Homo sapiens: one gene and its partner. The protein of the gene in region 1 purifies or fractionates together with the protein of each later gene. This does not show direct contact. Each region holds a gene or a part of one and is shown on either strand. Other genes may lie near its edges.

What was found.
Region 2: the proteins of NPHP1 (region 1) and TTC3 purify together in Homo sapiens (affinity purification with mass spectrometry; one large-scale study listed by BioGRID and IntAct). This does not show direct contact.

What each region holds. Positions count from the first base shown.
Region 1 is NC_000002.12:110,163,400-110,167,222, forward strand, and holds part of NPHP1 (nephrocystin-1), read right to left. Parts: intron 1,757-3,823; coding exon 1,653-1,756; intron 1,332-1,652; coding exon 1,289-1,331; coding exon of another isoform or gene 1,121-1,288; intron 1-1,120. UniProt on the Homo sapiens protein: Together with BCAR1 it may play a role in the control of epithelial cell polarity. Involved in the organization of apical junctions in kidney cells together with NPHP4 and RPGRIP1L/NPHP8. Does not seem to be strictly required for ciliogenesis.
Region 2 is NC_000021.9:37,149,431-37,153,253, forward strand, and holds part of TTC3 (E3 ubiquitin-protein ligase TTC3), read left to right. Parts: intron 1-647; coding exon 648-740; intron 741-1,389; coding exon 1,390-1,454; intron 1,455-2,462; coding exon 2,463-2,599; intron 2,600-3,520; coding exon 3,521-3,823. UniProt on the Homo sapiens protein: E3 ubiquitin-protein ligase which catalyzes the formation of 'Lys-48'-polyubiquitin chains. Mediates the ubiquitination and subsequent degradation of phosphorylated Akt (AKT1, AKT2 and AKT3) in the nucleus.

The DNA of each region.
Region 1 (3,823 bases):
AATGTCCCTGCTCCTGTCCTGCTCCACCCTGCGCTTCCATTTCACAGGTAAGTTAATGTCTATTGGCAAATCACATGCACTGAAGAATTAATGGATTTTTTTTGTATACACATACACACTACTCATAGACACACACCCTCACACATACAAGGATGTACTTATAAGTAATAAATAACGAAAAAGGTCAGGAAGGACACGTACTAAATTGTTAATGGTGATTACTTATGAGTTTGAGGAAGAGAATTTTCATTTGGCTATGTAATTATTTTTTTGTTTTTTGAGACGGAGTCTCACTCTGTCGCCCAGGCTGGAGTACAGTGGAGTATTCTCGGCTCACTGCAACCTCCGCCTCCCAGGTTCAAGCAATTCTCCTGCCTCAGCCTCCCCAGGAGCTGGGACTACAGACATGCGCTACCACGCCCAGCTAATTTTTCTATTTTTAGTCGAGGTGAGGTTTCGCTGTGTTGACTAGGCTGGTCTTGAACTCTTGACCCCAGGTGATCCACCCGCCTTGGCCTCCCAAAGTGCTGGGATTACAGGTGTGAGCCACTGTGCCCATGAGCCACTGTGCCCGGCCTGTAATTTTTTTTTAATGACAGAATTATGGATCATTTCTCCTTTAAAAAAATGTAATTAATTACTTTTTTTTTTTTAAGACAGGGTCTTGCCCTGTCACTCATGCTCTGGAGTGCAGTGGCACAATCACAGCTCACTACAGCCTTGACTTCCCAAACTCATGCAATCCTCCCACCTCAGCCTCCCGAGTAGCTGGGACTACAGGCATGAGCCACCACACCTGGCTAATTTTTCTTATTTTTTGTAGGATAGGGTCTCACTATGTTGCTCAAGCTGGTCTTGAATTCCTGGCCTCAAGTGATCCTCCTGCTTCAGCTTCCCAAAATGTTGGGATTACCAGTGTGAATCACCATGCCTGGCCAATTTCTTACTTTTTATTAAAGGCTTTCAGGATTTTTCGAATAGTAAATAAAATTTAACATCTGTTTCCACTCAAATGATAGGAAAGCAGGATCAATGAGAATGTTTCCAAGTCCTCAAGTGACACCATGAATTATCTATTCTTTTTGTACAAAAAAAAAAAAAAACTAATGAGAAATGTTACTTGGAGCACAGGCTTAGAAACCAGAAATATACGTCCTCTGCTCTGTACATTCCATGCCCTGAACCCTGTTTCAGATCCATTGGTGTCTTCCACAGTCTCCATCCTATTTCGCATCAGAACTATTAGGTAGCAAAACGAGACATGATTAACAAGACAGAAGATGCCCGCCTCTGAAATCGCTTTCTGAACAGCACTCCAGTGGGGATCAGTTCTGGGGAGACAAAATAGCAAAGTGAGTCAGGTCAGGTTATGCCTATTCACTCAATTAGGGAACTTCTTTAATCACAGTTGATAATCATCAGTAAGTTTTGAAAATCTAACAGTTTCCAGATGAAAACGAGGTAGAGCTAAATGTATTAAAAATAATTACAAAACTAAAACAGTAATGATCTTTAAGCAGACAATAGTATGAAAAGCTCTCCAGGTACAAGTTGTCTCCATTTCAAGAAAGTATTGAATTAGTTATAATAATAAAAATAAACAAATAAAATGTTTCCTAAACCTACTTTGATATCCTTTCCCACTTTTGTACCTTTGCTTAACTTCTGCTCCATCTGCTGTTTCATCCACCGCCTCTACATCTTCTTCACTGCCCTCTTCACTTGACTCTTGGCCTTCTTCTTCTTCACTATAAGGCTAAAAAACCATTGAAATGTGAAGTGCTTTTTAACTAATGCAAAAAACAACCAATAAAAATACCAGTACTGCCACCTAACCCTCCAGTAAAAACAAAAACAAGCTTTTCTGTTTAAAAACAAAAAAACAAAAGCATCAGTACTTTCAGAAAATCTTGAGCATAGATGGGAATTTAGTATATATGATGAGCATATAAAACTCAGTGGGAAATAAATTTTCAACACATGGTTAATAACTTTGCTATTTGAAAAAATAAGAACTGAGATAGACAGCAAGTTTAATCAAAATAAATTCCAGATGGAATTTACTTAAATAAAAAAGAAAAGACGTAAAGATAAAAATAAAAGAAACATAAAAGCATTAGAAGAAAATAATCTAGAGATGGGGAAGCCCTTTCCAATCATGATACAAAATCAAAAATCATAAGTGGAAACACTGACAGATTTAGCTACATAATAAATAAACATGACCTAAAGTCAACAAAGAAAATATCTAACACATAACTTAAGCATATCCTGAGGGGAAAAAAAGAAAATAGCTCACACAAATATCTAAGGATTAATATCCTGATTATTAAAATATTATAAAAGCTCTTAGAAATCAATGAAAGAGTTTTTTAAATCCCTTAGAAAAAAATATCCAAAAGAACTGAAAAGGTACCAACACATAAAAATGATAAGCACTCAAGGTGATGGAAATCTCAAATACCCTGACTTGATTATTACACAATCCATACAAGTAAAAAGCACTCACACAAATACATAAAATATTATGTATCAATAAAGAAAACCGAAAGTGCCATTCGCAAAGAAGATATACAAATGGTCATAAAGCATATGAGATGATGCTTAACCTCATTAGGAGTACAGTAAATGCACATTAAACCACTAATGACACTTTTTTTGCTGGTCATATTGGCAAAAATTTTAAAGATTGCTAACAGCCATCACTGGCAATTGTGTGAGGAAACAGCACTCACTGATTGTTAGAGGTGGGAGTACAAATTGGCATAACTTTTCTAAAAGGCAAATTGGAAAAATAAATCAAAATATAAAGCTATAAACCCTTTGAACCAGTGATGAACATCTAGGAATTTATCTAAGGGGATAATCGGGCAAGTGTGCAAAGATGCACGCAGGCTTGATGACAACACAAGTTGCTGGCTGGCTACCACCTATTCCCCACCTCCTTTTTCAAACAAAATCCCTGATTTAACAATGATCCAGTTAAAAGACTACATTTCCCAAGACTTCCTTGCAGCTAACTGTTGCCAGAGAACTAAATGCTGGTCAATGAGCAACAGTTGAAAGTTTTTTTGTGTAACTTCCAAGAAACCTTCTTAAAAAGGCAGCAGCTTATGCCTTTTGAATTCTTTCCCCTTTTGCTCCTTGGAATCCTTAAAAGATCCAGCAGCTGACTTAAAACTAAAGAGATAACTCTAGGCAGAGCAGCCTCACATCAGAAACAGGATAAAATACTGGATAGGATCTTAACCAATTATTGATTGCTTTTCTCCACACTTTTATGCTTGAGAGAAATAGGCTTCTACCTTATTTAAGCTACTTTTTGGGGGGATCTTTTTGCAACTGACAGTGGATGCTAATCCCATGTTCTTTGCAACATAATCGATAGTGATTATAGGTTGGAAACAACTTCAATGACCATCTAAATGAGATTAGAAGACTTGCTGCCATTGAAAAAGATGATCTAGACCTGCCCTATGTAATACAATAGCCCTTTGGCCACATGTAGCTAGTGAGCTCTTGAAATTAATCCAAACTGAGAAGTGCTGTAAATGTAAAACACACATTGGATTTTGAACTTAATGTTAAAAAAGCAAAACAACTCAATATTTTTAAATATTGATATGTCAAAATAGTATTTTTGATATACTGGATAATATAAAATATATTATTAAAAATAATTCTACCTGTTTCTTTTTACTTTTTAAAAATGTGTGTAATGAAAAACATGTATTTGTTCTTTGTCACTGATTCCTGGCACAGAGCTCCTGAAACCCTTGGAATTTCCTGAATGATAGGAGTATGTTTTCTTACTCATCAAGAG
Region 2 (3,823 bases), on another chromosome or scaffold:
TAACTGTCACCTTTGAGTCACTTCTGCTATGTCTTTGTCTTACCTAAATTGAGTTTCTCTAGTGATATACCCTCTTTTAGTGGTCTTAACTATTCCCATCATTTTAAATACACTCTGTAAATTAGTCAGCTTTCCCTAGGATATGCTGAAGTGATGCAACCCAAATATCTTGTGGCATACATCAGAGAAGTTTGTTTTTTGCTTACATGACTTGTCCTGCAGTTCTGCAGTTGTTGGCTGGGACTGGGCTGTAGCAGCTTTATTTTGTGTGGCTCTATTCCTTGTTTCTCAATCTAAGTTGAAGAATGACCCTTTTCTGGAACATCTTCCTGTGTCAGAGGAAAAAGAACAATGTCCAGTCTATGAAGTGTTTGTTAAACCTTTTGTCTAGACATGTGTATGTCATGTCTGGTCACTTTGCATTGATGAAAACAAGTCACATGGTCAGACCCACACCTGAAAGTATATTTTTCCTACACGGAAGCCTTAAAATTCGCATGGCAGTGAGTAAGGATTTTCACCACTTGCCTGAAGATGGTTTTAGTCCGTATTTTGACTGTTCCTAGTGGTAAAAATAGTATACGTGTATAGATTTATCCCCCCTAGACATAACATTTTTCTTGTTTTTTTTTTTTTTAATCAAATAGGATTTTCTACAAGGAATATGTCTTACCCCTGACTGTGAAGGTGTCATTTCTAAGATTATCATCTTCAGCAGTGGTGGTGAAGTTAAATGTGAAGTAAGTAATAAAGGGGAAACCTTGTTAGATAGATAACCAAAATGTTTACACCTTTTGAAACATGATTTGAATTTGTAGATATCATGTAATTTGGATCTTTTCCAGGAAAGAAACAATTACTTCATTTAAGAAAATATAGGAAATACTGGGATGTGAGAATGCTTCATTGTAATGAAAGCATTCTTATATTCTTTTATTTCTTAATAGGAAAAGGAGGCTTTTTATATCTTAGTTTTACTATTTTTACTGTTTTTGATAACTTCATTTTCTTAATCCCGGTAAACTTTTGGGCAGTAGTGGGTGTGCAGGTTTTTAGGGAGGGGGAAGAGCGTCTTGAGGGATTACCTTTAACTTCATGACATGGGAATGGCAAGAGTGGGTAGTTGTAATAATATTTACACTTTATTAGATCGTCTGCTTACTCTTAATTTTTTAAAAACTTTTTCCTCAAGTGTGTCTACCCTCTTGTTCCTCTTCAGTAAATTATTTTGCTAAAGCTTTCTGGGCTTTTGTCTGGGTCAGAACATCATCACTGTTCTCTATCAAACTGAACATTATGTGTGCTTCTGAAATACTTGTTACTTGTGGTTTTGTGTTTTATGTCATGGGAGTATGAGACAAATTTTGGATGTCTTTGTTTTATTTAAAGTTTGAACACAAGGTCATAAAAGAAAAGGTTCCTCCAAGACCTATTCTGAAACAGAAATGTTCTAGGTAAGATTTTTAACAATCAATCAGTGGTTTGATGATGTCTCTTAGAATATAATTCTATTAAATGCAGATTTCTAAATTATGCCTTTTTAAAAATTGGCTGTGTATACATATATTCAAATAAGTGTTTTTTAAAATGATTTTTATGGAAAATTAAAACTTAAAGAGAACTAGCCTAGAATGATTAAATACTAAAAACTTGATTCAGAATTATTTATCTAGTGGTTGAATTTACAATTAAAATTATAACATTTGATGCTGTGAAATTACATGTTTGATTAATAGATTTGGCATTTATATAAAAACTATACAGTTTGCTCTCAGTTGTTGAAACTTTAATTCCAAAAGCATATTTTTCTTTTTATCTCTCTTCAGTAAACATTTTGAACCTATGACTATTTTTTACCCTGAAATACTCAATGTACTGTCTAAATTATTACTTCTCTATAGCTTTTTGTTTAGATCAAATAATTCAGATTCTTTTTTCTTTTCTTTTTGGTCCTGCTTCTTGTTTTTCTTTCTAAGAAGTGATTTTTTTTTATCATTTGTGACCAAGAAAAAGCAAAAGAAAAGATGAACAGAATTATTTGTTGGAGAGAATTCATTGTAACCAGATCAACCAAATTATAGTGTTGTGGGTTATTATTGAGATGTGAAAATTATATTTTACTATGGGACCTTTCTTAGAAATGAGAGTTTACATGAATTATTTTGCAGAGTAATTTGTACTATTTCTGTTTACCCTATGAAGTAACTTAGATACATGAAAGTGACATCTATACAATCTGTAGACTGCATCCTTAGACATCACCTAATCATTGAGGTTTTTGTTTTCATGAAACAAGTACCCTTATTTTGACAATACTGACAGTTTCTTACATTGAATGGAAGATGTAGGCCGGGCTCTGATTAAAAAAGGAAAACTTCTAATATATTGCTTGGAAGATGGTTTCTACGATAGTCAAAGGAAAACAGTTCATTGAGTTGTCACTAATTGTAAATGTTTATCAGCCTAGAGAAACTAAGACTGAAAGAAGACAAAAAATTGAAGAGAAAGATCCAAAAAAAAGAAGCAAAAAAGTTAGCACAAGAAAGAATGGAGGAGGACTTAAGAGAAAGTAATCCACCCAAAAATGAAGAGCAGAAAGGTATGCAGAAGCCAAAGGCATGATAAGAATAATATACTCTCATTTAAATGTATAAATGTAAGCATCTTTTGGGCCTTATATTCATCATTATTGAATTGAAATAAAGATTTCACTTAGTAATTTAATACTATCACTGTCTTCTGTTACTCGAAGACAGAATTGGGTTGGTGTAAAGAACACTGAAAAACCTTTCAGAGATTGTATTCCCACTGAAAAACCTTTCAGAGATTGTATTTTAACTTTCTGTGCTTAATGACTAAACATATTTATTGTATATAAAGTTAAGGTAGTTGATGAGGCTGGGTTAGGATTGTTGAAGGAAGTGGCCGTATTTTAGGGGAACTAAGTTGTTTTTTTTTTTTGTTTTTTTTTTTTGAGACGGAGTCTCACTCTGTTGCCCAGGCTGGAGTGCAGTGGCGCGATCTCGGCTCACTGCAAGCTCCGCCTCCCGGGTTCACGCCATTCTCCTGCCTCAGCCTCCCCAGTAGCTGGAACTACAGGTGCCCGCCACCATGCCCAGCTAATTTTTTGTATTTTTAGTAGAGATGGGGTTTCACCGTGTTAGCCAGGATGGTCTCGATCTCCTGATCCACCCTCCTCGGCCTCCCAAAGTGCTGGGATTACAGGCATGAGCCACCACGCCTGGCCTAGAGGAACTAAGTTTCAAATGCTACTACATGAATGGTTCAGAATGAAGGGTGTAAAATGCTTACTTTTGGTATGTTTATTTTAGCGTACACTTTCATGTCTTTTCAAAAGTATTGTTAAGTGTTTATATTTCTAATTAAAGTTTCTTGAGTTTAGTAAAACAGTATAATCAATCTGAATCATATTTTATATTATGTAATTTTGTTATTTCTAAGTTTATGTAATTGTGAATTAGTCCTATTTATCACTTTAACCATTGTTATTTATCCTTAGAAACTGTAGACAATGTTCAGCGTTGTCAGTTCCTTGATGACAGAATTCTACAGTGTATAAAGCAGTATGCTGACAAGATTAAATCCGGCATACAGAATACAGCCATGCTTCTCAAAGAATTGCTTTCTTGGAAAGTTTTGAGCACAGAAGACTATACAACCTGTTTTTCTAGCAGAAATTTTCTAAATGAAGCAGTGGACTATGTTATTCGCCACTTGATTCAAGAAAATAACAGAGTAAAGACAAGAATATTTCTGCATGTTTTGAGTGAGCTTAAAGAAGTGGAGCCCAAATTAGCCGCCT